7 linked regions of the Homo sapiens genome follow. The protein of the gene in region 4 interacts with the protein of the main gene of each other region in a pairwise test. Each region holds a gene or a part of one and is shown on either strand. Other genes may lie near its edges.

Region 1 (3,314 bases), on a different chromosome or scaffold from region 4:
GGAGTGCAGTAGTGCCATGATGTTGGCTCACTGCCACCTCAACTTCCCAGGTTCAAGTGATTCTCCTGCCTCAGCCTCCCAAGTAGCTGGGATTACAGGCATGTGCCACCATGCATGGCTAATTTTTGTATTTTTAGTAGAGATGGAGTTTTACCATGTTGGCCAGGCTGGTCTCAAACTCCTGACCTCAGGTGATCCACTTGTGTCAGCCTGGGATTATAGGCATGAGCCACTGTGCCTGACTGGTGCCCACCCCCCACCTCCTTTTTTTTTTTAAGACAGGCTCTCACCGTGATCATGGCTCACTGCAGCCTACACCTCCCTAGCTCAGATGATCCTCCCACCGTGGCCTCATGATGCCCAGCTAATTTTCAAAATTTTTTTTGTAGAGATGGGGTTTCACCATGTTGCCCAGGCTGGTCAAATGGTGTCCTCATAAAAGGAAATTTGGGCTAGGCATGGTAGTTCACACCTGTAGTCTCAGCTACTTGGGAGGCTGAGGTGGGAGGACCACTTGAGCCTAGGAGTTTGAGATCAGCTTGGGCAACATAGTGAGACCCCATCTCTACAAAAAATTGAAAAAATATTGCCGGACATGGTGGTTCACACCTGTAATCCTGGCACTTTGGGAGGCAGAGGCGGGTAGATCACCTGAGGTCGGGAGTTCGCGACCAGCTTGACCAACATGGAGAAACCCCGTCTCTACTAAAAATACAAAATTAGCTGAGCATGGTGGCACATGCCTGTGATCCCACCTACCCGGGAGGCTGAGGCAGGAGAATTGCTTTAACCCAGGAGGCAGAGGTTGTGGTGAGCCAAGATCGTGCCATTGCACTCCAGCCTGGGCAACAAGAGTGAAACTCCGTCTCAAAAAAAAAAAACAAAACAAAAATTAGGTATAATGGCATGTGCCTGTTGTCCCAGTTACTTGGAAGGTTGAGGTGGGAGGATCACTTGAGCCCAGGTGTTTGAGACCAGCCTGGGCAACATAGTGAGAGTCCATTGCTATAAAAAAAAATAAATATAGCCATGTGTGGTAGTGCACACCTGTAGTCCCAGCTACTTAGGAGGCTGAGGCAGGAGGATCGCTGGAGCCAGGGAGGTAGAGGCTGCAGTGAACCATGATCATACCACTGCACTCCAGCCTGACACAGAGCGAGGCCCTGTCTCAAAAAAAAAAAAAAAAAAAGGAAATTTGGACACACAGAGAGACACCAGGGACAGGGACGCTAGTTCATAGAGACCATGTGAGGACACTGAGAAGGTGGCCACCTGCAAGCTACGGACAGGGGCCTCAGGAGAAGTCAAACCTGCTGACACCTTGATCTTGGACTCCAGAACTGTGAGAAAATGAACTTCGGTGGTTTAAGCCTAGTCTGTGGCATTCTGTTATGGCAGCTCGAGTTAAGACCAGGGGACTGTGGGGCCAGTGATAGGGTCTGTGTAGTGAGTTATGGGGTCTGGCGGGGGGTCAGTGATAGGGGTTTGTGAGGTCAGAGGTGGGAGGTCTTTAGATGCTGATGGGGGTCTGGAATAAGTGAATGATGGTGGGATCTGTGGGGTCAGTCATAGCGCATCTCTGGGGTTAGTAATTAAGGATCTCTCAGTGTTAGAGTCAAGATCTTTTATTTCCTGATTTTAAAAATCGTCACCATCATAGACCTCCTGGCTTCTCTTGTATCTGTGTTCTAATGGCTCCCAGCAGTGCCTTCACACAGCCCCTTTATTCCCCTTCTTGTGCCTGCCCATGAGCCTGAGTGTGACAGATCAATTAGCTTTGTCCCTCCAAACTGTGGGAGCAGGACTAGACTCTTCTGGCAGGCAGAGAGCTCCTCCTCGGCCAGTGTTCGAGCCTGGTCCACCACTCCTCAGTTCTTCTTGCTCTTGGCTTTTGTGGCCTTGGCATCCAGCGTGCTCTGGGCATGAGTGAGGTGCTTCACAGCATCAAGCACAAGGACTCCAGGCAGCACCAGCCACAGGGCATTCATGAAGACAAAGTAAAACCAGAAGTAGAGAGGGTGGCCCAGCTCTCCGTGCTGGAATCCGTCGCGGTGCTCTGTCAGGAAGTAGAGCACATCCCCATAGATCTGGCCTGTGGGTGGCAGGAGGGGAAGGAGAAGCCCCAGTGAGGAAGGGGACACTTTCGCCAATTCTCTATTCCAAAGCACTTTCCAAGTCATCATTCAAGGTCTCAGAGCTAAGTATTCTGAAATCACAGAGCTGAAAATCTGAGAAATCAGAAAAGTGAGATTCCAGACACCAGAGAGCTGAGAATTTCAGAACTCAGGAGAGCTCACACCTTCAGATTTAAGGAAGTTCAAAATCCTCAAATCCAAGACAGCTTAGGATTCTGGGACTAAAGATAACTCATATCGCTAGAACTAAAGAAAGCTAACAATTTAATAACACAAGATGACTGAGGCCGGGCACAGTGGCTCACACCTGTAATCCCAGTACTTCGGGAGGCCAAGCCAGGAGGACTGTTTGAGCTCAGGAGCTTGAGACCAGCCTGGGCAACATGGCGAAACCCCATCTCTACTAAAAATACAAAAGTTAGCCAGGCACGGTGGCACATGCCTGTAGTCCCAGCTACTCAGGAGACTGAGGCAGGAAGATCGCTTGAGTCTGGGAGGTGGAGGTTGCAGTGAGCCGAGATCACACCATAGCACTCTGGCCTGGGTGACAGAGCCAGACCCTGTTTTAAAAAAAATATGACAGAATCTTACATGAAGGGATCTCAGAGCCCTGATCCTGGAGGTTCCAGGGGCTTCTTGCCACCCTGGGCCACCTCATGTAACCTTCACAGGAGACTTTGTGATGGAGAAGGAGGAGGAGGAAGAAAAATGAACCCTCCCCACCTGAGAGTGCAGGCTCAGAGAAGGGCATGACCTTTCCAGAGCCTCAGGGGGTTTGTCATTCAGTCTGACTTACCCCTGGAAGGGCACCGTTGAGAGATCCCACCCACAGGGATACATCTGTGTCTGTGGATCCCCCATCAACCCCTCTAGTGCCCAGTGCCCCTCTAGTGCCCTTTCCTTACCCACAGAGACCACAAGCTGTAGAATGAAGCGGAGGGGATGCTGGCGGAGAAAGGCGATCACCACCCACAGGCTGAGTGGTCCCCACAGGCAAGCTGTGATGGTTTCCATGCACACTGTGAAGTTGTCACCCCTGCAGGAGAAAGCATGAGGGGACACTGGTATCGGTGTGCTCTTCCTACAGGTTAGCCCATTAGTGCTCCCCAACTCACCACCCCCCGAAAACCAATGCCAGTCTCCATTGACAGAGGCAAACACTTACAGGATGTATCGGCT
Region 2 (4,016 bases), on a different chromosome or scaffold from region 4:
CAAGCTCTAGAGGTTCTGGGACGTAAGTGCAGACAAGACACTGACGGCCGGGCACCCCTCAGTGGGATGGGCAGCTGAGAGAACTCGCCTCCATCCTCCTAGTGTGTCTGAGGCCTGATAACAAGAGGAAGGGTGGGGGCCACCCTTCCCCGCAGCCTTGGTTCCTCACTGGACATCAGGCATCAGGGGTGTATCTGTATGTGAACAAGAGGGGCCCAAGATTCCAGCCTGGCAGGGGCACAGCGCCCTGGAAGTGCCCATTGCGTTCCCCACGGCAGGACAATGTTTCACAAACACGTGTGTTTAGGTGCACATGTTACGACCATGAGCACGCAGAGGGCTGGAAGTCTGCACCCCGCTGGCCACAGAGGTGAGCTCTGGGGAGGGCGAATTTCCATGTTTTACTTCTGCACCCCTTGAATCTTGTACAAGAACATACCCTTGAACAAATTGTGTGGTTAAAAAAAGGGGAGTGAGGCCAGGCACTTTGGGAGGCCAAGGTGGGCAGATTGCTTGAGCCCAAGAGTTCAAGACCAACCAGGGTAACATAGCGAAACCCTGTCTCCGGCCGGGCGCGGTGGCTCACGCCTGTAATCCCAGCACTTTGGGAGGCCGAGGTGGGCGGATCAGGAGGTCAGGAGATGGAAACCATCCTGGCTAACATGGTGAAACCCCATCTCTACTAAAAATACAAAAATGAGCCGGGCGTGGTGGCGGGCACCTGTAGTCCCAGTTACTCGGGAGGCTGAGACAGGAGACTGGCGTGAACCCGGGAGGCGGAGCTTGCAGTGAGCCAAGTTCACGCCACTGCACTCCAGCCTGGGCGACAGAGCGAGACTCTGTCTCAAAAAAAAAAAAAAAAAAAAAAGAAACCTTGTCTCGTCTCTACCAAAAAAAAACAAAACAAAACAAAACAAAATTAGCTGGGCGTGGTGGCAGGTGCCTGTAATCCCAGCTACTTGGGAGGAGGGGAGGGCTGAGGCAGGAGGATCGCTCAAGCCCAGGAGGTCAAGGCTGCAGTGAGCTGTGACTGCACCACTGCACTCCAGCCTGGGCAACAGAGTGAGACCTCGTCTCAAAAAAAGTAGGTCACTGGAAGGGGTTGCAGACTTGGGGATCCCTAGAGCTGGAGTGGGGAGGCTGGGGGCTCCCACCCCTCCAGACTCTGCTGCCTTTTGGGACCTGGCAGAACTCTCCAGGGCTCTCTCCTCAGACAGCTAAGGGCAAGGGGAAGGAAAGGGGTGCTGGTGAATATTCCGGAGCTCCAGATGTGGTGGTGGGCTGGGCTTTTCTGATCTCAGTGCCATTACCCAGTGGCTTCTACAAGACATGCTTCCAAACACAGAGTCTCTCCCAACGATGCCCCCAGTGTTATTTGTCTCTGGGACAAAACTTCTTGATTAATACTTAATGACACTGTAAGGTGAGCCTGCAAAGCAACTGGGTAAGCAGTTTGGATAAAAAATGTCTCTGAGAACCACACTATAAAATAATTACTCTTGAAAGGCTGTGGAAACAGATAGCAACTCTTAGGACAGGTTCTTCACGGTGTTAACAGTCCACTCACCCAGGTATAACCGAACTGCTTCTAGAATCCCCATCAGAAACAGCAGAGCAAGATCGAGGACCAGGTAGCGGTGAGGATAGCTGAACACCTGACCTGAAGAGCAGAGGCGCGGACGGAACATAAGTAACCTGGCACAGCAGCAGCAGCCACCTCAGCTTGCCTTTTCCTTTTTTTTTTTTTTGAGACAGGGTCTTGCTCTGTCACCCAGGATGGAGTTCAGTGGCGCAATCTTGGCTCACTGGAACCTCCACCTCCCGGGTTCAAGCAATCCTCCCACCTCAGTCTCCCGAGTAGCTGGGACTACAGGCGCCCACCACCACGCCCGGCTACTTTTTGTGTTTTTAGTAGAGATGGGGTTTCCCCATGTTGGCCTGGCTGGTCTCAAACTCCTGACCTCAAGTGATCCGCCCACCTCAGCCTCCCAAAATGTTGGGATTACAGGCGTGAGCCACTGTGCCCGTCCCTGACTTACTTTTATACGTGATCATCAGGAGCGTGGCGAGGAAATACAGGGCGTAGTACGTTCCGCTGAGATAAAACAGCATTTGAAGGGGAACTGAAGAGAGCTGGTGAGTGGTTAAGGATCCTCAAGCTCAACAGGCTTGGGAGCAGCCTCCCAGGTGGCTGAACAAGAGGGGCTGGTTCTGTCATCTGTTTGGTGGCCACAGACACCAAGGGACCATGGAGTCTTGGCAATGGCTCACTGCCTATCTGAGGCTTCTGTCACTATGCTGGCTGCCAATGTGGTCCCATGAGCTGACAAGGCCTTTGTGGGACCCCCCTCCATGCCACAACAATGCGGTCTGTGCACTGCAGCCCCTGCCCTCCTGACTGTGGACAGGACTGGTCAGGGGACAGCCTCCACACACTGGCATCCCCAGTGATGTCACCCTGCCTTTGGCCCCAGTTATGAGTTAAGAGAGAAAAAATAACTTTGTCATTTTCTTTTTTTTTTTGAGATAGAGTCTTGCTCTGTTGCCCAGACTGGACACTGTGCAGTGGCACAATCTTGGCTCACTGCAACCTCCGCCTCCTGGGTTCAAGTGATTCTTCTGCCTCAGCCTCCTGAGTAGCTGGGATTACAGGCGTGCAAAACCATGCCCAGCTAATTTTTTGTATTTTTAGTAGGGACAGGGTTTCACCATGTTGGCCAGGCTGGTCTGAAACTCCTGGTGTCAAGTGATCTGTCCACCTCAGCCTCCCAGAGTGTTGGGATTACAGGCATGAGCCACTGCGCCCGGCCACTTTTTTCAGTTTCTTCAGAGGAAATATATTTCTGTTTGGGGGACTTAAGTATCTAGTAGCCATTTCCTGAGCTGTGTACATTTCCTATTTGTTTATGCTAACATGAGTCTATGGGGCCAGGCACAGTGGCTCCCGCCTGATGCCAGAGCTTCAGGAGGCTGAGGCTGCAGTGAGCTGTGATTGCCACACTCCAGCCTGGGTGAGAGGAAGGCTCTGTCCTTAAAAAAACATAAACAAACAAAAATAAAATAAAATGAATCTAGGGACAAAGTGAGGGATTTCCATCTTCCTGCCACTAGCGGCCGAGACAGAGGCAGGTGGCCATCGCCTTGGGAGCCGGCAGTGTGGCGTGCTTAGCCACTTTGTGCAGGGCTGAGCAGGTAGGGGATGGAGCCAGCAGAACTGATCCGAGGAAGTTACATCAACTCTCTAAATCTGTCAAGGAACACCCCCCTCTCCAAAGTGGAATTACTAGACAGAACTTAGGGAAAACGTGGGGTGAGGCCGAGTGCTCTCTGTGCAGCAGCAATTCGGGCCTCTGGGTGCTGTCCTGGAGGGGCACGCAGCAGGATACCACTGTGGAGGATCCTCTCCCTGAAAGAGAAAGGGGCCGTGAGCAAGGCCTGACAGCCACCAGGATGCTTTCCCGGGTCTCGCTCCACACTGACAGGAACCACCCCTGCTTTATTTTCCTTTGATCTCGTATTTGTAGAAAGCAGCAAACATATACCGTGGGCCTGCCACTAGATAGCTCCCGTGCCTCTCTAACCATCCTTCAATGAGGCTAGGAGTCTCTGCCTTTCAGAACCTGAGGCTGGAGACAGCGAGTACCGGGGGCACCGGGGTGGGAAGTGAACCTGGGCCAGACCCAGCTGGCCCTCAGGGAAAGCAGCACCCTGGAGCCCACCCCAACAGCTGCTCTCATTGTCTGTGGCTCACCGTCTGTGGCTTCTCCGTATTTGCCACACATATATGACTAGATGAAAACCTTTTCTGACTTAGGTTGTAACAAATCTTTTTTCATGATTGATGAGACATTTGCTTTCCTCTGAAATTTTATCCCCAAATATCCCTCCAAAAATAAGGATTTTCCAAACCAGCAATGCAGCTGTCCAGTCTTTTTATCATGCAACCTCTTGGGCCTTCTCCCACCCCCACCTGAGAGATGACAGGAAGCCCGAGGAGTGAGTGGAGTCTCTTTCCT
Region 3 (4,609 bases), on a different chromosome or scaffold from region 4:
TCTTCTGCTGTTGGGTGCAAAGTTCTGTATATGTCTGTCAGGTCCACTGGTCTACAGTGTTGTTTAAGTCAGAGGTTTCTTTATTGATTTTCTGTCTAGATAGTCTATTCATTATTGTAAGTGGGATATTAAAGTCCCATAAATTATTTTATGGCTGTCAATTTCCTACTTCAGATCTGTCAATATTTGCTTTATAATTTAGGTGCTCTGATAGAGTCATACTAATTGTCATATCTTCCTGGTGAATTGACTCCTTTACTATGTAATGATCTTTTTTTTTTTTGTCTCAAGAGATAGTTTTTGACTTAAAATCTAATTTGTCTGATATAAATTTAGCAACCCCTGCTTTGTTTTGGTTACCATTTGCATGGAATATCAGTTTCTGTCCCTTTTCTTTCATCTTATATGCGTCTTTAATTGAAAGTGAGTGCCTGAAGAACAGATGCAATTGTTTTGTTCATGTTTGCCTATTCAGGCTGTAATACTATTAAAATGTATAATTCATGAACATATTTGTATTAAATGAACAAATTATCAGCATTACTAAAAGTTCCTTTGTGTGTGTGCATATATATAAACAGCTTAGATAGATAGATGGATAGACATATATAGATATAAATATAGATATACAGGACTTAGTAGTCCAATTTTTGTTGAGTCATCTTCTTTTCTGTAATCCTAAGATTTCTGTTTTCTTTGCATTTGTACCTGACTCTGGACTCTAATTCTCCTTCACCCAAGTAATCCCTCTGGATTCCAAGATGTCTTTCCTTATTAGGTTGAATCTTTGTTGGCTTTTTTCCCCATTCTATTTACATTGGCATTTATTCTATACTCATGTCATTTTATTTATCTAAACCTCTTAGGAAAGGTCTTAACACTTACTGAGAATAGATCTCAGTATATATATTACAGCTACATGATCAGACCATAAACAATTAGTCCCCCAATTCTGCAAGGCAGCACTATTTACAAACACTAGAACCCAAACTAAAAAGAAAATATCTTCAGAATACAAAAAGGAAATTAAATTTAATAAGTATTTCTCTCTCACACACACACACACAAACACACACGCACACAAACACACATGCACACACACACCCAAGTTAATACATATTGCAAGAATGAAGAAGTTAATGGGTCCTAGGCTTAATAACTGGGTGATGAAATAATCTGTACGACAAAACCACATGACACAAGTTTACCTATGTAACGACCCTGCACTTGTACCCCTGAACTTAAAATAAAAGATAAAAACAGAAGAATAAATTAAAAAAAATATTTTGAGATGGTATTCTATTGTTTGTATCTATTTGAGCAAAACAACGTGAATGTGAGCTATGGGGTAGATAGCAAAAAGAACTTCAGTAAACAGAACTGAAGAAACTGTGTTGGAATATAAGCTGTTAAATGAAAGTCTACTTTACTTCTTCAGTTTACTTGGCAAGGACTTGCTTCCTGATTCATGGAATTAAACTACTGGAATACTTACCTTCGAGGATGATTGGCATCAAACAACGTGTTGTCATCATCCTCATCATCCTGTTCTAAAGGTGTCAATTCCATATTTTCTATGTTAGTGTCCAAAACTCCATATCTCCTAGTCTTTCGGTTTCTTCTTCTCATCCTATCAAATAGAACAAATTAATGAATAAAAATTATTTAATATGGCATAGTTTATATTTATTTATAAAATAAATTATTATTCTGTTTCTGACATAGCAAACAATATCAGAATGGTTACATTTCAGATATGCAACAAATTTACCACCTAGGATTAAACTTCATGAAACAAAACCTACTCCTACATGTTTATGTGCCATCGCCTGTTTCTTCTGTCTGACATACTCTCTTCTCTCTGTGTCAACTGATGGTGTTGACAAATAACTTTTAAGCCTTAAATTCAGGTACCGTACTTTAAACCTTAATTTTTAAAGGCTTAGGTCAGGTACTTCTTTACTGAAACCTCCTGCTCCAGCCTTTTCCCCATGTCCTCCCCGCTTTCTTACCACTGTTTAGATGCCCCTCTAAGAAACTGTATGTATATGCATATTCACAGACTAAACTGATAGCCCACAACTCTAGCTGCACACTAGAATTACCTGGGAGTATTTTTTAAAGTCCCATGTTTAGGACATAACTGAATCAAAATGTACAGCAAAAAAGAACTAAATATGAATATTTTGTTGAGGTTCTAAATGTGATTCCAATGTGATATAAACCATTATCTGAGATCAGTGGTTCTTGCAGTGTGGTTCTCTGGATCAGCAGAATCACAGTCACCTAGGAAGTTACGAGAAATGCAAATCTTCATGGCTAGCCCAGACCTAGTGAATAACAAACTTTGAAGATGGGGCCCAGAAACCTGTCTTTTAACAAACATTTCTTATGCTTTTGATGCATATTCAAGTTTGAGAACCACTGGCTTAGAGAAATTCAAAAGATTCAAGGGTGCTTAACATTCATTATTAGCCATATGAATGAAATCTCAAGATTTAGAGTCCTACTTCCAGTTTGTGTCTCAAATAACTTGTTCTTTTCCTTCAAATCATTTACCTTAATTTGCATTCCTATGTGCTGATGTATATGTTTATGTGGGGTTTATTCATCTGTCTCTCCCACTAAGTTCTCTGAGGGCAGCAACCAAGACTGCTTTATTCACCACTACATAACCACTTCCTAGCACAGTGATGTATCAATTAAGATGTTCTTCAATTAATTGTTGAGGGTCTGAGTGACTTCTACTTTGGCGACCAAAACTGTGACCCTGCAAGGAATGCCTAAGTCATCTCCAATGCAACAACTTCAACTCCACAGACAGCAAAATGTGTTTCACAAGAGTGTCCACTGGAGTTTGAAAATAAATAGAAAATATTTCAGCAAGTTATCACAAATAAAATCAGTTTACATAAATTCTGATTTACTCTGTTTGACATATGTGGGATAAGAAATACTTGGGCTATAACATCAACTGTAAAGAGCAACATGAGACTCCTCAAACATGACAGTGAAGCTCCTGGAAAACAAACATACCTTCAACAAATAATTGAGTCTTATTAAGCATCAGGTATGATATTAGCACCTGGGTGTAAAGTGCCTGGTCTCAGTGTTAAAATTTACAAAATGTTACTAAGTGTGAGTACAAACAAAGAAAATTTCCACCAGTCATTACCTATAGAGCTATCTATATACACGTCTAAAGTGATGGAACAGGAAACAGAGAGTTAAGCATAGCATTTAAAGTTACAAATGTAACCAATGAAAGGGTCAGTAAATATTAGTACTAGCAAAAATGAAGCAGTATGAAATACAAAGTACTCTTTCTTTCACAGTGAGAAATTAAGTATGTTTAGGTTGTTACATTAACATGTATATGTGTGTGTATGTGTGCAAACACACCCACACACACCATGTAGACCAGAGGTCTAAACTTTCTCTATAAAAAACCCAGGCAAACAGGGTCTGGAGTGGACCTCCAGCAAACTCCAATAGACCTGCAGCTGAGGGTCCTGACTGTTAGAAAGAAAGCTAACAAACAGAAAGGACATCCACACCAAAACCCCATCTGTACGTCACCATCATCAAAGACCAAAGGTAGATAAAACCACAAAGATGGGGAAAAAACAGAGCAGAAAAACTGGAAACTCTAAAAATCAGAGTGCCTCTCCTCCTCCAAAGGAACGCAGCTCCTCACCAGCAACGGAACAAAGCTGGAAGGAGAATGACTTTGACGAGTTGAGAGAAGAAGGCTTCAGACGATCAAACTACTCCGAGCTAAAGGAGGAAGTTCGAACCCATGGCAAAGAAGTTAAAAACCTTGAAAAAAAATTAGACAAATGGCTAACTAGAATAACCAATGCAAAGAAGTCCTTAAAGGACCTGATGAAGCTGAAAACCATGGCAAGAGAACTACATGACGAATGCACAAGCCTCAGTAGCCAATGCGAACAACTGGAAGAAAGGGTATCAGTGATGGAAGATCAAATGAATGACATGAAGTGACAAGAGAATTTTAGAGAAAAAAGAATAAAAAGAAACGAACAAAGCCTCCAAGAAATATGGGACTATGTGAAAAGACCAACTCTACGTCTGATTGGTGTACCTGAAAGTGATGGGGAGGATGGAACCAAGTTGGAAAATACTCTGCAGGATATTATCCAGGAGAACTTCCCTGGATAGGGAAGTTCTAGCAAGGCAGGCCAACATTCAAATTCAGGAAATACAGAGAACGCCACAAAGATACTCCTCGAGAAGAGCAACTCCAAGACACATAACTGCCAGATTCACCAAAGTTGAAATGAAGGAAAAAATGTTAAGCACAGCCAGAGAAAACGGTCGGGTTACCCACAAAGGGAAGCCCATCAGACTAACAGCTGATCTCTTGGCAGAAACTCTACAAGCCAGAAGATAGTGGGGGCCAATATTCAACATTCTTAAAGAAAAGAATTTTCAACCACGAATTTCATATCCAGCCAAACTAAGCTTCATAAATGAAGGAGAAATAAAATACTTTACAGACAAGCAAATGCTGAGAGATTTTGTCACCATCAGGCCTGCCCTAAATGAGCTCCTGAAGGAAGCACTAAACATGGAAAGGAACAATTGG
Region 4 (4,609 bases):
TAGTACAATGCAAGGCATTTGGATGGTTTACTATAAAGAAACCCAAGATCCAGTCCTCTGAGCTTTACACATAAAACTACCAGACAAAGCAAAGTGTACTGAACCATAAGAGTGGAAAATGTACTTTGGGAAAATGGCCAACTGGGGAAGGTTTCTTGAAGGGACAGAACATTTATACTAGAGTCTTGATTGGGTAGTATCAAATGGGTAAGGGAGGCTTACAAATAATGCATGTGCTGCTGAGGATAGCATAAGCCAAAGGAGAAGGACAGGCACTGCAGGAATGGCCAGGCCAGAGCATTGGTTAAAGGTATCAGGAACCGGACTAGATGTAGAGTACCATGATGTGTCTGGAACTATATTTGTAATACAGCTTAGGTATCCTTGTCTAGTCTAAAAATAGATGCTACTGTTAAAAGGGATGGGTCCTAGAGTGCCAAGGCTTGGCACTTGCAATCTTAAGAGACCATCCAGTCCAGTAGTTTTTCCAAGTTATTTAATAGTGAAGGGCTTTAGTATATAAACAAAATATTGGTTGAATGAAGAACCTACCTACTGAGCTTTCTTGTCATTCCCATCCCACCCCAACCAACAAAGAATGTTTGAAAAACTGATCCAATCCTAATTTTACAGGTTAAACTAAATTTAGGCCCAGTGTGGTTAAATTATTTTCTAAGAGTCATAACAAGTTAGAAGCAATTTTGAAACCAGAGATTCCTAAATCCAGGTCACTGGTTAGAAGTAGTTTCAGGTACTACTAAAAAGGTAAAGTATGATAGTGACATGCAGTCTTATTTCTGAGAAGTCAAAGCTGAGTCTTTAACGAATCAGTCGTCTTAAATGTTGTTTTGATAATGGTCTGAGCAGAGAATGGCAGGATATGGAACATGCCGCCAATAAACAAAACCTCAGAGATGGGAAGGACACAGGAACAATCACAGAGCAGCAACCGAATTCTCATTTCCAAGTAGTCGCCTTTTAAGGATAAGAACCCACAGAAGTTAAGAGTCAGGCAAAATTGGGAGGGAAAGAGTAAGAAAGCCAAGTATTGGATGTGTGTGATCTAACCAAGGACAAATCACAACTCTCCAGACCAAGGCCACTGCAACTGAAAGGTTACAGAACAAAAGATACTGGACTCCAGCCACACCCTAACTCCAGAGGACTCAGAAGAGATCTTACCACGACCTCAGCTAGAGAAGCCTACACAGCACACAGGAGCCTGAACTTAGGACCACTTTGTTAGGAAAGGGACCCAGGGACAAGTCACCACTCACTTTAACTTCTTCCCACATGGGACAACATAAAATGTGTAGAGAGACAAAATCCATGGGAGCCCCACTATTTTTGAGAAGCAAGAATATCTGCTGCTCTCTGAGCGCCAGGGATTTCCAAAATGAAGCACTGCATACCTCATAACAGCTCCCACCAATAGAAGTCAAGCCAATATATCACTAATTGCCAAATGACACACAGCAAGTTGCCTACCAGGATCAAAGTAGGAGAAAAATAATGGTAAAAGGATATTAACTATGCCAAGCACATTCACCAATCCTCTCTTTAAAAATTCTAGGATGAAATGGTAATATGACTGTTTCACAGGTAGCAAAACAGGCTCAGGGAAACTGAGAACTTTCCCAAGATCTCAATACCATTAAGTGATAAAGACAAGATTCAGTGCCAGGCCTCCTTTCCCTATTTATGCTTCTCACCCAAAGAACAACCTAGAGTGCTAGTGCTGGTCTAGACAAAGATGTCAAGTGGCAGATGACACCTCAAAAAGCCTATTAGCAAAGTACTACACTGTGCTTACCTTTCAAGAATGATTTCCTCATGGGTGACTTTGTTCCACATTTTTGGATTTCTCCATATAACTGATTTTAATCATCCTGATGAAAATATATCTAAACTTTAATGAATACTTTCCTGCCTACCTTTTAGATAGTCACTGAACAGAATTCCAACAGATTTTCATGAATATCAGTTATTGTTATAATGTAGTGGTCCCCTCTGGGATTCCCAAGATGGGATGAACTATTTCGGACATGGCAGAAGTGTTTCTCAGAATATTTTCTTTCTCCAAGCCAAGGCCTTCTATCAACCATGAATTCAGGTATGCAGAGTTAACTTCAGAAGCCCTCCTACTTCTAATGCTCTCTGTTTTAAACTTGCTACTCAAAGTGTAGTCTATGAACCAGCACATCGGCCTCACCTGAGAGAACTGCAAGAAATGCAGAATCTTAGGCCTCACTGAGACCAACTGAATCAGAATCTGCGTTTTAACAGGATCTGGTAATTTATGTGCACATTTAAAATGGAGAGGCTGTGCTCTAAAGTTTAGTCTAAAATAAGCCATTTTTAAATATTAAGTTCAAATCACAGGGTACAGCTCCTTCCCTGGGCCTAGAGATTATTTTTCAGGGTTTTAGCAGCTCTTCTAGCTCCCAATCTCCAAAGAGGATAATAGAGAATAATTAAATAGCTAGTTAATTAACACTTCAAAGGACAGTTTGGGGAATAATATGCTCCAAATTGGAGCTAGAGTACATGGAGAAAAGTGAGTAATACATTTAAACTTTGCTGTTTATGGAGTAAATTGAAACTCATTATTTCTACTTCTACAGCTAGTCTCTATTAACTCAATTATTTCTCACAGAAACTAGCTCTGTCTCCTCCCCAGTTTTATTTTCACTCTAGTTCTACCTACCATAACTTGTCTCTCCTACCAGAATTTTAAACCTTGTACTGTGGCTTATTTTCACTCCACAAGGAAGCTTGACAGGACAAAGGATGGCAATTAGCCTGGATCCTTGCCTGCTGAGAGGACAGGATACAGATTTAGGATTTCCTTCCCAGAGACAAAATATTCTGCAACAGGTTTAGAGATAGTCTGAATTCATATATACATGAACATAAAGACAGACGTTGTGTGCATACATACATGTATATATATAGTTGAGATTTCACCTATATCATCTTGTAAGTCATATATTTATGCATTTAAACATTATCTACTATAATTCAGATGCAAATACAAAAGTGAATAAAAACATCTCTACCTTCCAGAAGTTTACACTATCCAGAGTTCAGGAGGGCACTAAGAAGACAGAAAGTGAGCTATCTTGGACAGTCAAGGAGAGACTACCAGAGAAGTCAAAACCCTGAGGAAGACTAGCAGATGAAAAGGAAAGGAAAGATGGTTCATGAAAGGAATTCCACAAAGACCCATGGGAGAACAAAAGCATTGCTGTTACAAAAAATCAATGGGACAAATGGAGATTGTTGACCAAGTTTCATGAGAGCTGAGAGGAAAAGAGCTGGAATGCAATGCACAGTGAAGAGCCTGGGCCTGACGGATTCATGTCTTTGTCTTCCTTTAGAATGAGGAAGGAGAAAAAGATGGAGATATATGCAACTGGTTTGTATCTGGAATGGTGGAAAGCAAGTAAGGAGTGTTATCTCTATTTACCAATGGGTAACTAGGTTCCAGAAGACTGACTTGCCAAAGGTCACACGGCTAGGTAATGGCAAAAAATCTCCTATCCAATGCTGTTCACAAAAGACAAGTGTAATGAACAGTTCAAAAGGTCTAACAGTCCTAAAACTAATAAATACAGACCTTAACACGGTCTAGAAACCAAGGTTCTCATCTCATTCTGCCACTAGCTAGCTTCGTAACCTCAAAAGGATTCCTTAACCCATTTGACTCTATCAAATGAGAAGACTGGGCTAAATGATACCTGGTCCCTTTCAGTTCTTACACTTTATGGTTCTGAATCACCAGACTGCACTTGGGCCAGAGAAGGACTAATCCCCTAGTGATTAAAAGCCAGAGAACCCCTATACTTGCCTGGTCAGTCATTAGCCAGCATCTGCTAGAGAAACTAAAACTCAAATGATCAGGTGGTAACAATGGCCCTGGGAGGAAACTGGCAATAACATCCCAAATAACCAAAAGCTAGCTCTGCCCTCAGCTCCTCAGCTCCCTGGAAATATCCTGGTTCTAAACAGTTTGGAATGCTTACAAGCGACATTGTATTCAGCCTTCCATTTCCATGGCAATGTTTTGCCTACTTCCAAAATGAATTTCAAGGGCATGTGCTACTATAATAAAACCCTAACCTAACTAACCAACAATAAAAAGACCAAGACAAAATTTCGAAAAGGCTTTGGGGAATGGTGGAATGGGGGGGAAAAAAAGCTAAAGAATCTACAAAGGCCAGGCATGGTGGCTCACACCTGTAATCCCAGCACTTTGGGAGGCCAAGGTGGGAGGATCACTTGAGTTCAGGGATTCAAGACTAACCTGAGAAAAATACTGAGACCTTGTATCTACAAAAAAAATATAAAAATTATCTGGGTTTGATGACATGTGCCTGTAGTCTCAGCTACTTGGGAGGCTGAGGTGGGAGGATCACTTGAGTCCAGGAGGTCAAGAGTGCAGTGAGCAAGGATCACGCCACTGCACTCCAGCCTGGACAGAATGAGAATCTTAAAAAAAAAAAAAAAAATTGTCTTAAAAAACATTTCTCATTTAAACGCAAATGTTTGTATGAAGATTTCTGACAGCCAAGTGGGAAGTACAACAGAATTTTAAGTTCTAACTAAT
Region 5 (4,609 bases), on a different chromosome or scaffold from region 4:
GCCTCCTGGGTTCAAGAGATTCTCCTGCCTCAGCCTCCCGACTAGCTGGGACTACAGACATGTGCCACCAGGCCCAGCTACTTTTTGTATTTTTAGTAGAGACAGGGTTTTGCCATGTTGGCCAGGCTGGTCTCGAGCTCCTGACCTCAAGTGATCCGCCTGCCTCAGCCTCCCTAAGTGCTGGGATTACAGGCGCGAGCCACTGCGTGTGGCCCAAATTCTTTCTTGCTTGAGATCTAAGAACCCTCTCTTGGGATCTGGATCGGGTCCCCTTTCTGGCAACAGAGTCACCTCCTTCAAGAGGCCCTGATGTCCTCAGCAGGTCGCTAAGGGCCTGTCTAGCTCCCTGAGGCCCAAACACTGTGCCATTTTGACAGCCAGGGGCCCCAGGTCCATCTTGAGACTGTGAACATGCTGGCTGTCCAGGGGTCTGTGAGCTGGTATCAGGGGAGGGTGGGGCAGCAAAGTGAAGCCGCTCCCAGGGCAGAAGCCTCCATGCCCACATCCGGGAAATCTTCCTCTCGGAGGCCCTGCCTGGGAGGCATCTGCAGGCGCTCCCCCGCTCATAGAATGTCTGCTCATCCAGCCCACCCCTGAAGTCACTATCAGGCAGGGGGTAGGGCAGGCCATGGGGACCTACCTGCCCTCCATGCATTCCAAAGAATCGAAGTCCTCCATAGGGTCCAGGTCCTCTTCAGAGTCAGTCATGCCAAGAACCTCCATGGTCGGGGGTTCCAGGAGCTGCTCATACAGGAGGGTCTCCATCAAGATGTCTCTGGAGAGGGGTCTTACTTCAGACATTTCTCCTCTGGGGCAAAAAGACAGCATATGACTGGACCCCTAAGAACTGAGCAGTCTGGGGGCTCTCTCACAGGATGACCCCCAGATTGTATAGCCCTACTCACCAGCTCTTTTGATCCGCTAAAGCCGTCAATATCCCCCAACCCCAGCTCCCACAGGCATGAATCCTGCTACATGCTGGCTGTGTGCCTCTGGGCAAGTCGCCTAGCATCTCTGTTCTTGGAAGGGAGGAACTTGAAGATGATTCATAAGGGCCCTTTCTTTCTTTCTTTGTTTTTGGATACTGAGTCTTGCTGGAGGCTGGAGGGCAGTGGCACAATCTTGGCTCACTGCAACCTCTGCCTCCTGGGTTCAAGCAATTCTCCTGCCTCAGCCTCCCGAGTAGCTGGGACTACAGGCATGAGCTATGCCTGGCTAATTATTTTGTATTTTTAGTAAAGACGGGGGTTTCATCATGTTGGCCAGGCTGGTCTTGAACTCCTGACCTCAAAGTGATCCACCCCACCTCGGCCTCCCAAAGTGCTGGGACGACAGACATGAGCCACCACGCCCAGCCTTTTTCTTCTTTGTGAAACAAAATCAGAGTATAAATAAATATTAGAAGTTCTCCTCGGACACCAGCCCTCAAGAACCTGTCAAAGCAGAAAACCCAGGCACCTGCTGTCAGCACAGGGGACAGAGGCCAGGCTGCAGGGCGATTCCTCTGTACCACTTAACAGAAGGCTACACCTGTTCTTTGGTGTCTGCTGTTTCTCTTGAGAAGAAAGGCAGAGAGGCAGCATGAGAAAAACGTATCACAATCCCCATTCCCAGAGAGACCATCGCTAATTCTTCTAGTGTTTTTCCTAAACACTTGTGCGCATCACACATCCTTCTTCACAAATGGGATCACCCCATACAGTGTCTTACAGCCTTCTTTACTGGCAGATGCTATTTACCTCTCCGATATCCATTCCACCTGGCTCCTTGCTGATAGAACCCCAATTTTCTTCGGGGTGGCCCTGCATCCTCATTCATCTAAGCCAACCATGGCCCTCCTCTCCCTCAGCTTCCCAGCATCCCTTGCAGCTGGTGACAACCATGTAACCCAGTTCTGGTCAATGAGGGCTCAGAGGCTGGAGGCAGGGGTTGGATGCCAGGGAGTAGACACAGCCAGGGCAGCTCCTTCAAAGATGGAGCTGCAGTGGCTGACCAAGAAGAGCAGAGTGGGGAGGCAGAGAGCGGCCAGGCCTGAGGGTGTCACTGAGCTGTCTCCTCCAACTGTGTGTAAGAAAAATGAACCCAAATGTGTCCTCATCACCATTCACTGAGTTTCCTCTTCTTTGCCACCAAAGGCCTTCCTAACTATGATCATTGCGAATCCCATGCCAGTACATGTTTCATCATGATGGCAGAGAAGGGTTCTGCGACCTGATTCACCATCATGTACCCCACATTTACCCTACAGGGTACCAAACAGCCTTAGATGTAGATGACGATAATGACGATGACTGTGGCACGGAAATCTAATGGCCTAGTTCAAAGCCCGGCTCTGGCAGTTAGCAGCAGTGTGTCAATTTCTTCATCTGTGAAATGGGTTTCATGGTCTGAGAGCCCCGCCCTGGGCTATTGGGAAGACGAAATAAGGAACTCCTTCATGTACTTTGAACAGGGCCTGGCACGCTGGGAGGAAGTTGGCACTAACCATTACCTTTATGCTTCAACTCATTATTTTCTTACCATAATGCCCTGGGTGTTCTTAATTTTTAATTCCTCATGCCTGCTGACAGGACACTCCGCCCTCCCACCATCTCACTGAGCTGTTTGTTCACACAGGACACTGAGGCTTAGAGAGGTTCATGACTAAGCCAAGAAGGGACAGAGCTCCAAGTCTCCCTGACCCCCAGGAGAGAGAAAACTGACGGCAGGCAGGACCCACAGCGCCGCCCTCCCACAGGCCTAGGCACAAGTGTGTGCTCACGACTTGCTTTCAGCATTCAAGGGAGATGGATGGGCCGGGTGCGGTGGCTCACGCCTGTAATCCCAGCACTTTGGGAGGCTGAGACAGGCGGATCACCTGAGGTCAGGAGTTTGAGACCAGCCTGGCCAACATGGTAAAACCCCGCCTCTAATAAAAATACAAAATTAGCCAGGCGTGGTGACATACGCCTGTAATCCCAGCTTGAACCTGGGAGGCAGAGCTAGATTCTGACTCAAAAAGAAAAAATAAGGTTTCACAGATGAGATGTTTTACATTGTATAGACGGCCAGCAGTGTGCGTGTTAAGCTGGCATTAGAAGAACTGTGTCCAGAACTTCCAGCTGCCTTGGGTGTCTATGCAAATGGCATTTCCCTAGGAAAGCAGCTCCAGCCCTTGTTTGCTTTTCCCCCCTTTCCCTTCCCCTCGAAAAGGCAGTCTCCTGCTTTGTGCTCCTGGAGACCCCAGTACCTCCACGCCCCGCAAAGCCAGAGCAACAGTGGAACCTCACCTCACTGTGAGCTGAGCTGTGAGCTGCACCGAGCCTCGCCTTGACCCACTGTGCCCACAGCCCCCTTACCCAGCAGGCATTCCGAGAATCCTTAGGCGCCAGATAGGAAGAAGGCCCCAGCCACCAGAGTGGGCTGCGCTGCCGAGGGTCTGCAGCAGAGTGCAGGTCAGGCCTACCTGAGGAGTCAGTCACCCACGCTCTGCCTGCAAGACCCTTTCAAGCTCCCCACCCTGCCAACCTCCCCATCTGAGTAGACCCAGGACCACATCTCACCTTAGGTTGATACCCTAGCCCAACCCTTCCTGCACCAGCCTCAGTTTCCCCATCTATTGTGTTTTTGTTGGTGGTAGTGTTTTTTTGTTTGTTTGTTTGTTTGTTTTTGAGACAGTCTCACTCTATTGCCCAGGCTGGAGTGCAGTGGTGTGATCTCAGCTCAGGTGCAACCTCCGCCTCCCAGGTTCAAGTGATTCTCCTGCCTCAGACTCCCAGGTAGCTGGGATTACAGGCACATGCCACCACACCCGGCTAATTTTTGTATTTTTAGTAGAGTCGGGGTTTTACCATGTTGGCCAGGCTGGTCTCAACTCCTGATCTCAAGTGATCCACCCGCCTCAGCCTCCCAAAGTACTGGGATTACAGCACTTTGGATTAATTTATTAAATACCCATTACCCTCTACCACAAAGAAGGGACCTAATCTGAACCTTTAACCATCTGGCCTCTGGGCCCAGGCCCTCAGATTGACTTGATATGAATGGCAAAGATCCCATCACCAACTGGGCCTAGGCTGGCCTTAGGGCCCAGATCTGCATGGGAAAAGTGTGGAGCCAGGGAGCGGAAGGTGGGGAGCCTGCCCAGGAGGGTCCTTGCAGCAGCGACCTCCTGCTCTGGTCTCTCCTGGCCACCCCACCAGCCCAAGGGAGGCCCAGTCCTGTCAGCTCCTACCTGGCACCAGCTCTGAATGCCTTACTGGTCTCCAGCCTTCAGTGGAGCTCTCTCCAACCTAATCTCAAGGTAGCAGCCTCAACCCTGACCCTGTCACTGCTCTGTTCGGCTCCCTAGACCTGGCCTGGTGCAGTGCGGCTCACGCCTGTAATCCCAGCACTTTGAGAGGTGGAGGCAGGTGGATCACCTGAGCTTAGGAGTTTGAGACTAGCCTGGCTAACATGGTGAAACGCCATCTCCACTAAAAATACAAAAATTAACCAGGTGTGGTGGCGCTCGCCTATAATCCCAGCTACTTGGGAGGCTGAGGCAGGAGAATCACTTGAATCCAGGAGGCAGAATATGCAGTGAGCCGAGACCGCGCCATTGCACTCCAACCTGGGTGACAGAGCAAGA
Region 6 (3,977 bases), on a different chromosome or scaffold from region 4:
GGAGATAGATGGATTCCCAGACCCACCAAATCTAGGTTTTAGACCAAAAAAGAATGTTTTATTATTAGAATTGAGTATATCTCAGGTCCTCTTTCATTACTACAACACAAAATAAATCTGGGGGCCAGGAACGGTGGCTCACACCTGTAATCCCAGCACTTTGGGAGGCTGAGGCAGGTGGATTGCCTGAGATCAGGAGTTCCAGACCAGTCTGGCCAACATGGTGAAACCCCGTCTCTACTAAAAATACAAAAAAAATTAGCTGGGCGTGGTGATATGCCCCTGTAATCCCAGCTACTTGGGAGGCTGAGGCAGGGGAATTGCTTGAATCAAGGAGGTGGAGGTTGCAATGAGCCAAGATCGCGCCACTGCACTCCAGCCTGGGTGACAAAGCGAGACTCCAGCAAAAAAAAAAAAAATCTGGGTTGGTATAATAAAGACACAGTGACATTCTAGATTAAGGGGTTGGTTCTTATATGAAAGCATCTCAATCTTTTTTTTGAGACAGAGGTTTGCTCTTGTTGCCCAGGCTAGAGCGCAAGGGTGTGATCTCAGCTCACTGCAACCCCTGCCTCCCAGGCTCAAGTGATTCTCTTGCTGTAGCCTCTCTAGTAGCTGAGATTACAGGCGTGCGCCACCATACCGAGCTAATTTTTTCTGTCTGTATTTTTAGTAGAGATGGGGGTTTCACCATGTTGGCCAGGCTGGTCTCAAACCCTTGGCCTCAAGTGATCCACCCGCCTTGGCCTCCCAGAGTGCTAGGATTACAAGCAACAAGCATGAGCTACCACGCTCGGCCTATGCATCTCAGTCTTAAATTTTCTTCTAGGTGGATTTAGGGGTTTGTGCTCGTGGCCCTAAAAATGAACATGAGAAAGGCAGGGAGTACCTGCTTAGTTGCAATAGGCCTTGTTTAGGCTAAAAATAAGCTCGATACCTGTATTTTATATACTGTAAAGAGCATTAACCATAACCTGCCTGCAACAGCCTCTGTAGGTAGAAACAATTATGGAGGTGTCAAGTAAGAATAAAGAGCTGATAACATCAAATTTGGTTTATTTCAAGTTTGTAACAAAATATATTCTAGGCAACTTTTCAGACATTGTTTTATAGCATCATAAACCCCATACCACTGCTGTCATTCCAAAAGCTGCCAGGACACTGGAAGTTATCAAGTGGTCCAGCCCAGGAATACAGGTAGAATTCACATGATAGGTGATAAGAAAGCAATGTCTGTGGGCCACTCTGATCCCTCTTTTTACCTTGGTAGGTAAGGTATGATCTTAAGACTATATGTACTGAGTCCTATTAGTCAGTGAAAAAGATTAAAGTGACAAGTTATGTGCTTTGTTCCTATAGCTTTGAAGTTCATCCACCTCACCAGCAATTGGAAGGTCTCAGGTCTTGCAGGCTCTACCCATGTGTAATCCTGGGGCAGGTGTGAATCTTGATTTTTTTAAGAGATTACTCAAGGGAGAGAACAACAGAAACGGAAGCCATGAGTACTGCCCCAATTCTAGATTAGGTTAGAGGTTAGAATAAATTAACTAATGGGGAGTGGTAGTGGGTAGCAGTCAGACCCAGGAGACAGATTTGTGTGGTTTCCTGATCTCAGCAAGGTCTAAGGAAAAAAGCCTCCCCGCCCCCCCACCTTAAATAGTGGCATCAAGTCATGAAGGCCAGTGAAACGTGGTTAGTCTCGTAAAATGACTTCCAGTTCTTCCAGGTCCTTCTGGATAGCCAAATCCTAGGGAGACAAAGAACAAATCTAGGGCTCAAAATTTAAACCAGCATTTTCCCAAACCAGTGGAACCTAAGAAGAGGGGCCCTTTGCTTCCTTCCTGAGCTCTGCTACAGTCTTTTTCCTACTTCCCCAGGATAGCCTGGAGCCTATTAAATCTGTCTCTTCCCCTAGAGGTAGACTCTTTTTTACTAGGGAAATAAGACCTCTAGGAAAGATTATTTTCTAAAAATGTCACATGATGATTCAGTGATGACAGGCAGTTTTGTTTGGTTTTTTTTTGAGATGGAGTTTTGCTCTTGTTGCCGAGGCTGGAGTGCAATGGCACGATCTGAGCTCACTGCAACCTCCACCTCCCGGATTCAAGCGATTCTCCAGCCTCAGCTTCCCGAGTAGCTGGAATTATAGGCGTGCGCCACTAGGCCCAACTAATTTTGTAATTTTAGTAGAGATGGGGTTTCTCCATGTTGGTCAGGCTGTCTCGAACTCCCGACTTCAGGTGATCTGCCCAACAGGCAGTATTAAAAAGCCTTACCTCCTTCGTGACATCTGGCAGCTCCAGGGCCAACTTCATCCACCATCTAGCTTCAGAGTTTTTCCCTAGTTCTCTGTAGCACTGAAAAGAGACAACAGTGAAACCTGATACTGTGTACTTTCAGGAGTTCCCAGATCTATGTTGAAGTAGACAAATGAGTTTACCTTGGAAATATATACCCTTCCTGCTTTGGAAAATCCTGGCTGTAGTTCTTCAGCCTGGGAAAAGGGACAAAGATATTTCAGTAAGAGGTTCCTATATTCTAATCAGGCTGAAGTTTATTAAACTAGATTTCTAGTCCCCAACCATGTGGCTGATTCAGTGGGTCTGAAGAAACCTATATTTTTGATAAGCTGTGCAAGTGATTCTGGTTTTCCCATAGAACAGGCAAACACAAAATTGCCCCCGACTAGGAAAACCCCTCCCATTAAGGGTCTCAATAATGTCCTTAGGAAAAAACAAGGTTACCCTGGTGTTTTTGCCTGCCACCTGCCCCTCTCATACCTTTAGGAAGCTCTGGAGGGCATCTTCCACAGTGGCACTGAGAGGGCTTTCAAGCAAGGCTGTAGCAGTTTTTTTTTCTAGCCAGCTCAGGTGAGAGACCTGCCACAAAAAGATCAAGGTGTGTATAAGAGGTTTTAAAAGGTTTTTTTTCTTTAAATCTTTGGGGATATATTGAAAATAGGGTCAAACGGGGCTGGGTCGAACCACCAATAATACGAGCATTCAGAAGAAAGGGCACCTGAGCCAGAGAAGGCTGAGGATCTTGTTCTTCCTGGCAAGGAAATCGGTGTCAGAAGGCATTTAGGACCATTATGTCAAGCACTGAAACGCAGCTTACCTGATAGCACCACCTGCCAAGAAGAAAGTGAGCCATGGGGTTTTCTGGCTGGAGAGCAATGGCTTTGTCCACATGCTCCTAAGGGGAAAATGTAAATATAAACTAACATCAGACACCAGAGTTGCTAAAAGAGAGGCAAGGGCCGGATGCAGTGGCTCATGCCTGTAATCCCTGCACTTTGGGAAGCTGAGGCAGGTGGATCACCTGAGGTCAGGAGTTCGAAACCAGTCCTGGCCAACATGGTGAAACCCCATCTGTGCTAAAGATACAAAAATTAGCCGGGCATGGTGGTACATGCCTGTAATCCCAGCTACTTGGGAGGCTGAGGCAGGAGAATCGCTTGAACCCAGGAGGTTGCAGTGAGCCAAGATCACACCACTGCACTCCAGCTTGGGCGATAGAGTGAGACTCTGTCTCAAAAAAAAAGAAGAAAGGCAAGTCACTGAGGCTGTAGAAAAGTTTTTGGCAGGGAGCTGGAAAGGAGTGGGGAATCTGGGATAGGCCAGCACAAGGAAGGAGGAAAAGCCTGTCCTCACCTTGAAGCTAAAGCCACTCTGGATGCGCCTCTGGATGCTCTCATGCTCAGCCAGCTGACCACAAAGCACCGCATACCTAGGGGGGAAGCAGCAAGCTCAGGGACAAGGGCTGAGTACCATCACTGCAAGGAATGGATGCCCCAACCACAGCCTAGTTGCATTGTCCCCTATCCCTGTACCCTCAACTAGAGCTGAAAATACCTAATTTTCATCTGTACGTAATCCCCATTCTTTACGGACCTCTGGCCCCAATTAGTATTCTTTAGTAGATAATGGTAGGCTTACAAGTCTCCAAAGTATTCTAGGTATAAAAAAAGCTGGGTT
Region 7 (4,289 bases), on a different chromosome or scaffold from region 4:
GGGGGCTACTGTTCAACCACAAAGCTTGTGGAAAAGTTTGTTAGCCCAGACAATCTCAGGGCAACACCTGGCAGGTGCTTTCCACCCCTGACCACAGTGGCCAATGGGACAGAGCCTGAAATAAATATTTCTAGTTTCTGAGGTGAGCTGAAGGCCAAAGAGCAGCTGTCCCTGCAGCTCAGACCATCCAGTGAAGGAGTAAGGTGCTACTTTTTAAAGCCTTCTGCTACCTACAACCTCCTTAGCCTTTAAAACGTGTGCTTGTCTCTGCACGTTTAGGAGACAATATTAAGAATTAGAAATGAAAGGGCCGAGCGCGGTGGCTCACGCCTGCAATCCCAGCACTTTGGGAGGCCAGGGCGGGCGGATCACGAGGTCAGGAGATCGAGACCATCCTGGCTAACACTGTGAAACCCCATCTCTACTAAAAATACAAAAAATTAGCCAGGCGTGCTGGTGGGCGCCTGTAGTCCAAGCTACTCAGGAGGCTGAGGCAGGAGAATGGCGTGAACCCGGGAGGCGGAGCTTGCAGTGAGAGATCGCACCACTGCACTCCAGCCTGGGCGACAGACCAAGACTCCGTCTCAGGAAAAAAAAAGAAATTAGAAATGAAGGAAATACAGGCTAAATACTAGCCAAGAGTGCCAGTTATACTGATGGTGGGGCTCTCACAAGAAGGAAAGTAGCCTCATACTATGGTGATGTTCTGGCCATCACGAAGTAAAAATAGGGGTGGGCTGGTGGGTCCCTCATACCTGGGCTTCCTCTTTTAAGGCTATCACTTCAAATTAATCAGAACTCAGATTTACAAGAGAAGACCTATCAAGGGTAGGACACCATTCAGCATCAGTCTCTTAAAGATTGTTCTCATACAAGATTTATTCCCCAGCACACCCCTCCCCTCCTCAGTTCACAGTGGAGACTATGGAGATTCAGGGCAGGATCCCTCAGGTACAAGAAACACCTTCCGAAGATTTTGCTCTCCTTCCTTCCCTCCCTCTTGCCAACTCCCAAGGCCTGAAGCGCACACTCATGCAAACACACGAAATCCCCCTCCTTCCCCACACCTCCTGTCTTTCCACATCAGAGCTCTGAACTTGAGAGGTGTCAAAAGTCTGTTTGAGAAGCCTAAAGTGGGGAGATGCCATTACCCCTGACCACCCCACTATGAGTGACTATGAGACACCTAACTCTTCCCTCTTCTGTCAACCATTTTCACTCCCTGGCCTCTGTACCTTCTCCATCAACCAAGAGCAAACATGTCAGCACACCCCCACCTGCAGTACATGAAAACAGGCTCTGTCCAACATCCCTCACCCAAGTACAGGGGTGTTGGGGGAGTGGCCCCTGAGGATCAGCAAAGGGTTAATGCAGAAGGAAAGAGGACAGAAGCGTTTGGCTTGAGCTCTGCTTGGGGAGGCAGAGGCTATAGACTGGCACAGGTTTAGAATCAAGTACCATGTTTAGGTTTCTGTCTCACATCACATGATTTCACTAGGGGCTGCAGAACAGATACCCCTCAGAGGGGTCTCTGCTGATTACAGCCACATTCTTACTATTGGCTCATCCTTAAAGGAGGCCCCACCAAGTTGGGAAGCAGTTGAAAATAAAAGCTGTAAAGGAGCTGAACAGGAAGTAAGAATAGGTGGTGCAAGAGATTATGGCCCCTGGGATGAATGACATGGAGCCATTTGTAAAGTGCTACTGTATCATCCCCCATGAATTATTGCTTCTCCAAAGGAGGAGCAGAGGAAGGAACAGGAACATAGAAATGAGTATGGTATTGCTTTGCTCACTGCTGAGGCTGATGGCCAGATGGACCCAGGGGTTATCAGAAACCGAAGATTAACTACACAGCTCCAGAAGACTCAGACCTCAAAATACAGAGGTGCTCACTAATCCTCCCAGCCAGCTGATCCCCCTGGGCCAAGGTAATGTAGAAGAGGCCCATCCCCACATCATATTCACATTTTTTAAATTTCACAAGCAATACTTTGGACCACTGGGGTTCAGGCCCCAAGAAATGATGGGCTAGATGAGAGGGAGCAGGCCTGTTCTGCAAAACCAAAGGACAAGTTTGCTTTAAAAAAAAAAAAAAATCACGCTGGGCACAGTGGCTCACACCTGTAATCCCAACACTTTGGGTGGCTGAGGCGGGCTGATCATTTGCAGTCAGGAGTTCTAGACCAGCCTGGCCAGCACGGTGAAACCCCATCTCTACTAAAAACACAAAAAAATTAGCCGGGCATGGTGGTGCATGCCTGTAATCTCAGCTACTGAGGAGGCTGAGGTAGGAGAATCGCTTGACCCGGCAGGCGGAGGCTGCAGTGAGCCGAGATTGTGCCACTGCACTCCAGCCTGGGCAACAGAGAGAGACTCTGTCTCAAAAAAAAAAAAAAGAAAAGAAAAGAAAAGAAAAAAATCAAATCCTGGTTTAACAAAAGATGACGACTAATCCCAGCACTCTGGGAGGCCAAGGCAGTCAGCTCACTTGAGGTCAGGAGTTTGAGACCAGCCTGGCCAACATGGTGAAACCCCATTTCTACTAAAAATACCAAAAGAAAAATTAGCCGGGCATAGTAGCGGGCACCTGTAATCCCACTACTAAGGAGGCTGAGGCAGGAGAACCTCTTCAACCTGGAAGGCAGACGTTGCAGAAAGCCAAGATCACACCACTGCACTCCAGCCTGGGCAACAGAGCGAAACTGTCTCAAAAAAAAAGATGATGACAATGTAACTACTCCAGCTGCTGCCTGACTTTGGGGGCTCTAGAGAGGCGATGAAAGGAGGAAGGCAGGCATGGGCTCTTTCAGTGAGGGCCCCTGAGCACTCATACCTAAAAGCAAACAGCAGCACCTCCTCAAAGGGGAACCAATATCCCTGACTATTTTGTTCCCCCAAAGTACCATCCTGATGGAGAGAAGCCTCCCTTGGGGGAGCACACTCTCACTTCAGTGACTGAGCTCAGAAATGGGCATCCAGCTGGTGGGAGGGGAGTGAGTGTCCTCTCTAAGGAGGCCTCTGAGCATCAGCCAGGCCACCCAGCATACAAATATAATTCAGGGGAGGGGAGCTGAGTTCTTCCCTTGCCCCATCACCTTAAGTGGGATGGGGAGAAAAAAACCTAAACCACAGTGACTCCCAAAAGGAGTCTCTGCCTCAGTGGCTCCTAGAACTGGCAGGGTCCAGCTGACTCAGCTCCGACTGGTCCAGAAGTTCAAAGTCATCCCCCTCAGCATCAGTGTCCAGGTCTGAACTGGGGGACCGGAGGAAGCCTCTCGTTGCTCTCTGGGCAGGTGCTCCAGAAGGGCCTGGTTGGGAGGCCCCTGACAAGGCCAGCTGAATCATACCCTGGGAGACCAGGCTGGCAAGGTTGCTGGTGAGGTTGGATCCTACAGGAAGAGCACCAAGCAGGAGCTCCGGCAGCGCAGCCTCGTCCCGGCTGGCAGGTGGGGCCTGGGGCTCCTCAGCCCCTGGCGGAGAACGGTACATCAAGCTGGGCATGCCAATGCTAGTGTCGTCCTCATCATCCAGGCCAGCAGGATCCATATTAATGGAAGGGAAGTCTGGAAGGTCTCTGGCAAAGGATTCCTCTGGATCACTGTGACCATCTAGGTCTGGTGGAATACAGAAGTGTCTGAGTCATGGCACCTACCTGGCCCTCCTGTGCCCCAGCCCCACATGACCAGATTTTTCCCACCCTGGCTTTCTCAGGGCGAAATAAACCCATGGGACTGGTATACCTTTCCCCTCCACTTATAGGTGGCTGTGATCTCTACACAATTCCCCCTCTCTTCTATGTCCCCTGTGAGGCTAGTGCCTGAGGCTACTAAGGGACTAAAGTCTTCAAGAAGGGCAGCAGTGCCATCCTGGCTGTAGCCACAGCACTCAGGCTGCTCTGCCGCCTGATCCATAGCTCAGAAAACAGGAGAGGGGCAAGCACCAGTATCCCCTCTGTTCAGGGAAGCTAAGAGGCAACAGTCAGAGCCATTATCAACTGAGGTCAAAGGCTCCCCTCACCTTCAGAGCCTTCCGTTAGAGGTGTTTGGCCCCTTGAAAGATTGAATGTGCCATTGTCTGTACAGGAGACTTCAGCGTCTGAGTGCTCAGAGTCTGTGATGGCCAATTCCCTGGCAACAGTAGAATCGTCCAGCTTAGGAAAAGACCAACAAATGTGAGATAATGCCATCAGGAACCAGGTGTAGTCACCAGGTACAGCTTTACTAATCAGCTAGCATTAGTTATCCGAAGGCCATCAAATCAATGTAACCAGGGATAGATGGTAACTT

The links.
Region 1: the proteins of TMEM243 (region 4) and EBP interact in binary tests that used the Homo sapiens proteins (3 or more experiments, as listed by UniProt).
Region 2: the proteins of TMEM243 (region 4) and TMEM80 interact in binary tests that used the Homo sapiens proteins (3 or more experiments, as listed by UniProt).
Region 3: the proteins of TMEM243 (region 4) and FAM174A interact in binary tests that used the Homo sapiens proteins (3 or more experiments, as listed by UniProt).
Region 5: the proteins of TMEM243 (region 4) and BIK interact in binary tests that used the Homo sapiens proteins (3 or more experiments, as listed by UniProt).
Region 6: the proteins of TMEM243 (region 4) and RMDN3 interact in binary tests that used the Homo sapiens proteins (3 or more experiments, as listed by UniProt).
Region 7: the proteins of TMEM243 (region 4) and RETREG3 interact in binary tests that used the Homo sapiens proteins (3 or more experiments, as listed by UniProt).

What each region holds. Positions count from the first base shown.
Region 1 is NC_000023.11:48,527,012-48,530,325, reverse strand, and holds the end of EBP (3-beta-hydroxysteroid-Delta(8),Delta(7)-isomerase), read right to left. Parts: coding exon 3,301-3,314; intron 3,172-3,300; coding exon 3,041-3,171; intron 2,093-3,040; coding exon 1,869-2,092; 3' UTR 1,610-1,868; downstream 1-1,609. UniProt on the Homo sapiens protein: Isomerase that catalyzes the conversion of Delta(8)-sterols to their corresponding Delta(7)-isomers a catalytic step in the postlanosterol biosynthesis of cholesterol.
Region 2 is NC_000011.10:698,259-702,274, reverse strand, and holds part of TMEM80 (transmembrane protein 80), read right to left. Parts: intron 3,407-4,016; coding exon 3,387-3,406; intron 2,134-3,386; coding exon 2,040-2,133; intron 1,661-2,039; coding exon 1,568-1,660; intron 1-1,567.
Region 3 is NC_000005.10:100,559,075-100,563,683, reverse strand, and holds part of FAM174A (membrane protein FAM174A precursor), read right to left. Parts: intron 1,631-4,609; coding exon 1,496-1,630; intron 1-1,495.
Region 4 is NC_000007.14:87,199,114-87,203,722, forward strand, and holds part of TMEM243 (transmembrane protein 243), read right to left. Parts: intron 3,642-4,609; exon of another isoform or gene 3,067-3,641; intron 2,114-3,066; exon of another isoform or gene 1-2,113.
Region 5 is NC_000022.11:43,120,215-43,124,823, reverse strand, and holds part of BIK (bcl-2-interacting killer), read right to left. Parts: intron 809-4,609; 5' UTR 802-808; coding exon 641-801; intron 1-640.
Region 6 is NC_000015.10:40,734,848-40,738,824, forward strand, and holds the end of RMDN3 (regulator of microtubule dynamics protein 3), read right to left. Parts: intron 3,730-3,977; coding exon 3,654-3,729; intron 3,196-3,653; coding exon 3,118-3,195; intron 2,880-3,117; coding exon 2,781-2,879; intron 2,495-2,780; coding exon 2,441-2,494; intron 2,358-2,440; coding exon 2,277-2,357; intron 1,748-2,276; coding exon 1,694-1,747; 3' UTR 1,040-1,693; downstream 1-1,039.
Region 7 is NC_000017.11:42,578,654-42,582,942, forward strand, and holds the end of RETREG3 (reticulophagy regulator 3), read right to left. Parts: intron 4,154-4,289; coding exon 4,021-4,153; intron 3,618-4,020; coding exon 3,160-3,617; 3' UTR 862-3,159; downstream 1-861. UniProt on the Homo sapiens protein: Endoplasmic reticulum (ER)-anchored autophagy regulator which exists in an inactive state under basal conditions but is activated following cellular stress.